2 linked regions of the Homo sapiens genome follow. The protein of the gene in region 1 purifies or fractionates together with the protein of each later gene. This does not show direct contact. Each region holds a gene or a part of one and is shown on either strand. Other genes may lie near its edges.

The links.
Region 2: the proteins of MAP1B (region 1) and TKT purify together in Homo sapiens (affinity purification with mass spectrometry, with the first as the bait; one study listed by BioGRID). This does not show direct contact.

Annotation. Positions count from the first base shown.
Region 1 is NC_000005.10:72,201,279-72,204,974, reverse strand, and holds part of MAP1B (microtubule-associated protein 1B), read right to left. Parts: intron 1,413-3,696; coding exon 1,174-1,412; intron 1-1,173. UniProt on the Homo sapiens protein: Facilitates tyrosination of alpha-tubulin in neuronal microtubules. Phosphorylated MAP1B is required for proper microtubule dynamics and plays a role in the cytoskeletal changes that accompany neuronal differentiation and neurite extension.
Region 2 is NC_000003.12:53,224,827-53,228,522, reverse strand, and holds part of TKT (transketolase), read left to right. Parts: intron 1-163; coding exon 164-247; intron 248-373; coding exon 374-467; intron 468-1,644; coding exon 1,645-1,767; intron 1,768-2,591; coding exon 2,592-2,767; 3' UTR 2,768-3,696. UniProt on the Homo sapiens protein: Catalyzes the transfer of a two-carbon ketol group from a ketose donor to an aldose acceptor, via a covalent intermediate with the cofactor thiamine pyrophosphate.

The sequences.
Region 1 (3,696 bases):
AAAACTTTTCTATTTTCCTCAAGAAATGCAAAGGATTTTTCAATGTATATTTTCCAGGAACCAGAATAAAGCTGCAAAGAAAAGCTATTGTTTCTAAGGGAAACTGAAGGCTGGAACCAAAAAGCAATTAATCAGTTTCTCAGTTCTTTACTGTTAAGAGAAGTGCTTCCGTTAGGGTACAATTTTTTGTATTTCCTTTAACACAACTGGTAAGTTTTGCATAAAAGATATTGCATATTTAATCCAAGGATTTTATCGCGCACTTCAAAGCCCTCAAAAGCCCACTCATTGTGAGTAACTAACATTTTGTCCTGAGAACAAAGATCTGCACCTTTACTTTATGTGTGTGGTTGGGGATGGAGGTATGGGGTGGGTAAGTAATGTCCTGAATAGTATAAATTCCATCTAGCATTCAGTAGGGAGCCACTGGGTGCCTCTCATTAGATTTCATATGATTAAATAACAAGTAATTCTATATAATATGATACAAGCACAATTTACTAGGTAATTTTGTACAGAACCACAAATAAAACTTGATAAGCAAAGATCACAGCTGAATTAATAATAGCTGGTTCTAAGAATCATTTAAGGCCAGGAGTTCGAGACCAGCCTGGGCAACATAGGGAGACCCTGTCATTAAATAAATAAGGGATGGTTTGTGGTCAGGCATGATGTTTGGGAGTTGGGAGTGTCCTGTGAGGGACTATATTCAGCAATGCTCCTGCTGTGGAATTTCACATGGAGAGCTGTTTTTCTAAATGGCCATATTCCTAGCCGCAGTCTACTCATAAAACACAAAGGAAGAAAGGCAATTCCTCAGGAGCTCTCATATGGAAATATGACCGCTTTGATTCACACACACAAGACTCTTGGCATACTGGAGGAAGGGCAATTAATCTTAGGCCCATTTTGCAGATAAATGGTTTCTGCTTTAGTTAAGGTGTCTTTCCTCCAAGGCCGTGGTTGGTGGTGGTGCCAAGAATATTATTTCAGACTACCTACTGTGTGTTAAACTGACTTTGTTCTCAGGATATTTCGTGTGTGACAGACACAGGAGGCACCTCATGTGGATCCACGATCAGCCACATGAGGTGCCTCTTTAAACATGGTTCCTTCCCATTGCCTCTGGACACAGCTCAATCGGCAGTGCAGACACTGTCGAGGAGTTCTCACCTGCATGTTGCTGCCCCACTGAGCCTTTCCTTCCAACAAAGCGTCCAGGACAGCCCGGCTGGGCTCCTCAGCAGCAGGGTCATTCCCACTCACCACGTAGTAGGAAGACCGCACTCTCTTGAAAAATTCCACATCAACATTCTTACTATTGCTGTGGTTAGGAATGTAGCACAGGTCCAAATACACAGGGAGGCCTGGGGGCACAGCAGATGACTTGGTCGTCTTGGTAGTTCCTGGTCCTTGGGTAAATAAACAAAGACAAAGCAAGGTCATAGCAAGGTGAAGAGACCATACATCCAGCACATGTTCCCCACTCAATCACACCTTCCCTATTCAATCACAAGTAGGTCCTCTGAGACATGCAAAGTGGTGACAGCATTTCCATCTCCCTGGTAATCTGTCAAGGGCATTTACGCTAGCAATGTGACAAAACATAACATGGTTGTTTACCACCTCAATAGGAGAAATGAAGAATGGGATAGTTTCCCTTTGTGGACAACCAATATTAGGAAGCAAGAAGAGTTTGAAGGCCTTTCCCAAGATGGCACTAGATATAATACTCCTCCTAAAGAAGTTGTTAATGTGTTTCTTTATTTGATAAGTGATCTAAGAAGTAGATTTTAAAAGTCAAAAGAAAACGTCTGTATTTGGCAAAACATAGCTAAGTGATCTTAGTGCTCTATTTTAGGGTCTCATTGATAGCAATTTTGTCCACAGCTGGATATTATACCCTAACATTCTACCTAGCAAATAGTTTTGATCTTAACCCCATATGATTTCCAAGGCCCTCAGCACCTCCATCTCATTCATAAACTGATGAAACACCATATTCTCTCCTTAGCACAGTATTCTGAAAAGTGATACTTCTTTCCCTAGACAAGGCTGGATGCCAAACTTGGGCAAAGGAAGGTTCAGAAAGACTAGGCTTTCTCTAGCTAATCAGGACATATCAGACTGCAACCAAAACCCCCAGTCAAATCACAAAGGTCTGGGAAAACTAACTTGTTCCAGTTAGGAAGTTTAAAGCTTTTGAAATGTTAATAGAACTAGCATTTTGAGGCAGTGGTTCTTCAGCCTGACTATATAATCAGAATCACCTCGGATGCTTAATACTGACACCCAGGCCTCATTCTCTAGAGTCTGACTTAAGTGGGCTTGGGTTGGGGCCTGGAACTACTGTCTTTTAAAAGCACCCCAGGCGATTCTAATATGCAGCTGGTTTCATTGCTGTAAAGCCAATTAAAACACCAGCTAGATTTTACATGCTTAATCCTCTTTCTCCATAGGATATTTAAAGACTATCATCCCAGATTGAAAACCACCAGCTAATTCTATCAACTGTACAGTTTTATTTTTAGAGAGGTTAGGGAGTGGTGAGAATCAGCCAAAGTAATAATTGGATAAGCTAATTCATTCTATGAATAGATCAATAGTTTATTTTAATGAATCTGAGCCGAAAGCCCTCAAAATATCCAAAGAATTCCTAAAGAATTCTGACTTGTACTAGAAGTTTGTGAGTTACAGTTCTTCCAGTAATTAAACATGTCTGCCAATTTCGCCCTCTACTCTAAATCACTACCATCAACATCAAATGAATATTGCTCACAGAAGCACAAACTGACAGAACTGCCCAGGTTTGCTTTAAAAGTCAATTAGTACTGCAACTTTGCCTTTTTAGACATCTAAAAGCATCTCCAAAATAAATGAAAATTAACTCATTTTCACTTATTACTTTGCCTTTAAATTACCTCTTTAAATGTCCAAAAAAAGTTTTTTTAAAAATTGTGTGGGCTAGGATGTATATGTTCTGGCAAATTTGCAGTTGGTTTTATCTGTTTAAATGGATTTCATGTTTTCTCCTAAGTGCAGGTCAGTTGTCAACTCTTTCAGATGAAAGGGTTAATTATCTGGTGGTTTTTCATTCATTTTAAACATGAAAAAATTCCGATTATTTTCTATGTGCATGTAGAAAGGCCAAATGTGCTGAGAACTGAGCCTTAAAATTGATACTCCATATTGTTTAAAGTAAAAATTTGCAGTTTTAACAAATGTATCCTAAAGTGTACTTAATTGGAGAGCTCCAAAGATTACTCTATCAGATTTTCCCTAATAAATCAGGGCAATGTTATTTAAATTATGTTGTGCCTTACATGTTTGGGTCCATTTACATTACTTTGTGAATTGTGATCTAAAAATCTCTGAATAATTACCTAAAGCAAATAAAATGTATGAATGCCAATCCTTGTGATTGATGTGAAGCAACAAAATGAAGCAGTACTGCCATAGACCAGTTCCATCAAAAGCCCAGGTCATTGCTGAGAACCTGATAAATCTGAGAATCATGACCAAAAACATGAATGATCAAAAATCAGGGATACCTGCTCTTGCCAAGTGGCATTTCATTTGCTTATTTATTTATTTTTGAGAGACAGGGTCTTGCTCTGTCACCCAGGCTTGGCATGCAGTGATACATACAATTCTGGCTCACTGCAGCCTTGATCTCTTGGGCTGAAGTGATCCTCC
Region 2 (3,696 bases), on another chromosome or scaffold:
GGTGCGGGCGGCAGAGGGCAAGCAAGGCCCTTTTCCCTGCTGGAGTAGCCAGGATGCAGTAACTAACGCTCCCATGGGAAGGGATGGCCTCTCTAGAAAGACCTCGTCTCTGAGGTTGGGTGTGCCACATCCTGTATCCTCAGTTTATCTGTTTCGGTCTCAGGGTATCTGCTTCATCCGGACCAGCCGCCCAGAAAATGCCATCATCTATAACAACAATGAGGACTTCCAGGTCGGACAAGCCAAGGTCAGTGCCTCGCATGCCCCAGGAGCCCACAGAGCTGCCTGGACCCTCCCTGCTGTGACTCCCAGCAGTCAGGGCACACCCTGCCCCAGGGCCCTGAGCCTTACTCACCCTCTGTGTCACCCCCAGGTGGTCCTGAAGAGCAAGGATGACCAGGTGACCGTTATCGGGGCTGGGGTGACCCTGCACGAGGCCTTGGCCGCTGCCGAACTGCTGAAGAAAGGTGAGGAGAAGGGGCCTCCAAAGTCATCAACTGAGCGGCCACTGCATGCTAGGTCTTGGGGTTCTTTCTTTCGTTCTTTCTGTTCTTTCTTGAAGAGCTCACAGCTAGAGAGAAAGCATTTCATTTCATTAAATAATGATAGCAATTATAGCCATCCTTTGAGCACTTGTTCTGTCTGGCATGTTGCTAAGTCCTGGGGCTGCAGTGCCCACAGTCCCTACCCTATGACTCTAAAGTCGAGACCCCCCCAGCATGGTGGCCAGATCAGTGGCCTGGAGCCTGCCAGCTGGGCTGGAATCACTCAGCCAGGCACTAGTTAAGGAAGTAAGTTATTCACTGTCACCATGCCTGTTTTCCTATCTGTAAAATGGAGATACTAGCCCCTTGCCCTCAGAGCTCTCCTGAGGGTTACATGCATGTGACTTGGTATTCTATTATTATTACTGCGAGCTCACAGTGTTGGCTAGTGGTTTGTAGGGGAGACAGGCATTGGCCTCTCCTGCAATAGAATCACACAGCAGATGTCATGTTTTAGCACGAAAGAGGGGGCAGGTGTGGCATCTTCCAGAAAGTGGCTTCAGAGTGGGTAGGAATTGATTAGCAGAGAGGAGAGTGAAGGGAGGCCGGAGGAGGGTCAGGCAGGAGCAAGATGGGGCTGGAGGAGCCAGAGGAGTCCATCCCCAGGCAGGGGGAGACCCAGGGGGGTGAGCTTTAAGCAGGGCCTGGCAAGCGTGGGTTTGTCCTTCTGAGAAGGTGCCTCTGCTGCTGGGGCCGCACGTGGGCCTCTGATCACTCTGCGGGCTGCAGCTCCCCAACGTCACCACATCAAGCCTCACCTTCCATCAGGCCAGACACCTGGGGTGTTTTCTCTCGCATTCCCTTTGTCTTCAAGGTTGTGGGAGGATGAGGGAAGGCGCTCAGGGCCTGCACGCTCCGCTCTGGGTTCTTGGATACTGCGGGCAACACAGCTGGACCAGATGCCCCAGTGCAAGGGGTTGGCAAGCATGAGCTCAGCCATGGGAACGAGGTGGCAAGTGGTTCTCCCTGGGACAGGGACAGGCCCGCAGGCTGAGCTCTTAGCTACACGCAGCCCTCAGGATGTCCCACCAGGCCCCCACCAGGGCAGATAGTGGTGCCCAGCCCTCCCCTCAGCCACGCCGTGTGCTCTCCCTCACAGAAAAGATCAACATCCGCGTGCTGGACCCCTTCACCATCAAGCCCCTGGACAGAAAACTCATTCTCGACAGCGCTCGTGCCACCAAGGGCAGGATCCTCACCGTGGAGGACCATTATTATGAAGGTAAGGAGGCCTGGGGCAGGCAGGCTGGGCAAGGGACAGGGCCAGAGAGCCGAGCGTTGGACGTGCCTCTTCTATCTGAGCCCCAGGAGGGCAGCTGTGGCCCAGAACACCCAGAGCTGTCCCTCAGAGCAGCTGGGACGTGGTCTCTTAAAAGGCCTCAGGCTTGGCCTGGGGACCTAGCTAACTCACAGCTGCTGATGAGCTCTGTGGAGCTCCTGCTGCCCAGGAAGCTGGTGAGGATTCCAACCTCGCTGCTAAATGGTGGATGGTGGCGTCCCTGAGGTAGTGTAGGGTGGAAGCTATGGTGCAGCTTGGGAAGCAATGCAGAATTTCTGGTATTTGTGAGTCCTTCACACAGCAGGCTCCCTAAGTACACACCAGCCTCTCTAAGTAGGAGGCCCCAGTGGGAGAGATGGGCTTTGACTCTGGGGTCAAATGTAGATAATTGGACTATGGACAGTGGCTGGCTGGTCACCAACAATGGTGTTTGAAACAAACATTTAGAGGCCATATTTGGGCTTATAAAAATAGTTCTGGGCCGTGCATGGTGGCTCACACCTGCAATCCCAGCACTTTGGGAGGCTGAGGACAGCGGATTTCTTGAGCTCAGGAGTTGGGAGACCAGCCTGGGCAACATGGTGATACCTGTCTGTCTCTTTAAAATAAAAAAAATCAATGAGTTATGTGATGGGCTCATGGCTACAGGTGGAGAAAGGCAGTGCATATGCAGCCTCCTCCATCCTTGACTAAGGCTGACAGAGGGCTGGGCCCACCACTGCTCACCCTGAGGCCTCGTCTTCTGACTCCCCTCCTTTCATTTCTAGGTGGCATTGGTGAGGCTGTGTCCAGTGCAGTAGTGGGCGAGCCTGGCATCACTGTCACCCACCTGGCAGTTAACCGGGTACCAAGAAGTGGGAAGCCGGCTGAGCTGCTGAAGATGTTTGGTATCGACAGGGATGCCATTGCACAAGCTGTGAGGGGCCTCATCACCAAGGCCTAGGGCGGGTATGAAGTGTGGGGCGGGGGTCTATACATTCCTGAGATTCTGGGAAAGGTGCTCAAAGATGTACTGAGAGGAGGGGTAAATATATGTTTTGAGAAAAATGAATTGGCCCTGAAATGTTTTCTTTTTTGATGTGTTTGCAGCCAGTGCAGGTTCTGGGGAAGAAGCGTGGAGGGTGCGCTAGGGAGGCTGGTGTCCTTGGTCCTGGGCCAGGACCTGGGTGTCCCAAGTCCCCTTGGAATCACCTGCAACTGCCCTCAACCTCCAGAACTATCGCTGCCTCCCATTCATCACCAGGTGACATTTGACTGCAACCTGCCTTCTAGCTGAGAGGCTGAGACCTACATCCCTCATTGTGACCTCAGTCCACCTGGCCCTGAGCGGGCTGGGGAACTGCCTCAGTCTGGAAGCTGACCAGGCACTCTCAGGGCCGCCCCACCTCCCCCAAGTCCCCACAGCCTTGCAGTCAGGTCTCCTGGGATAGGGAGGTTCACTTGCTTGTTGTCCCTCGTCCTTGTCATATCCTTTTAACTAGGCATCTCAGAGAAGCAGAGACAGGGCAGCCTTCGTCCTGGGGGAAAAGGGACCCTCAGGATGGCATGAGAGGTCCTCAATCCCAAGTGTGGAACTGTCCCCCTCAACTTGTTAAAATGCAGATTTCTGGGTCTTGCCAATGGGGCCTGGGACTCCATGTGACAACTGGCCCAGGAGCTTCTGATGTCACACAGAATTCTGCAGTCCCAAGCTCCAGCCCCGACCTGCTCTGCTGTTCCTAGGTGACTGCCCTCACACTGCTGACCACAGTGGATTTCTCCCCCTGCTGCTCGGGCTCAGCTGGGGTCAGCCCTGCTTATAAGGTCAACTGTGCAAAACCTTATACTGGCCAAGAACAAACTAGTGCTGGGGGAGGAGGGCTGGGTGCCCCG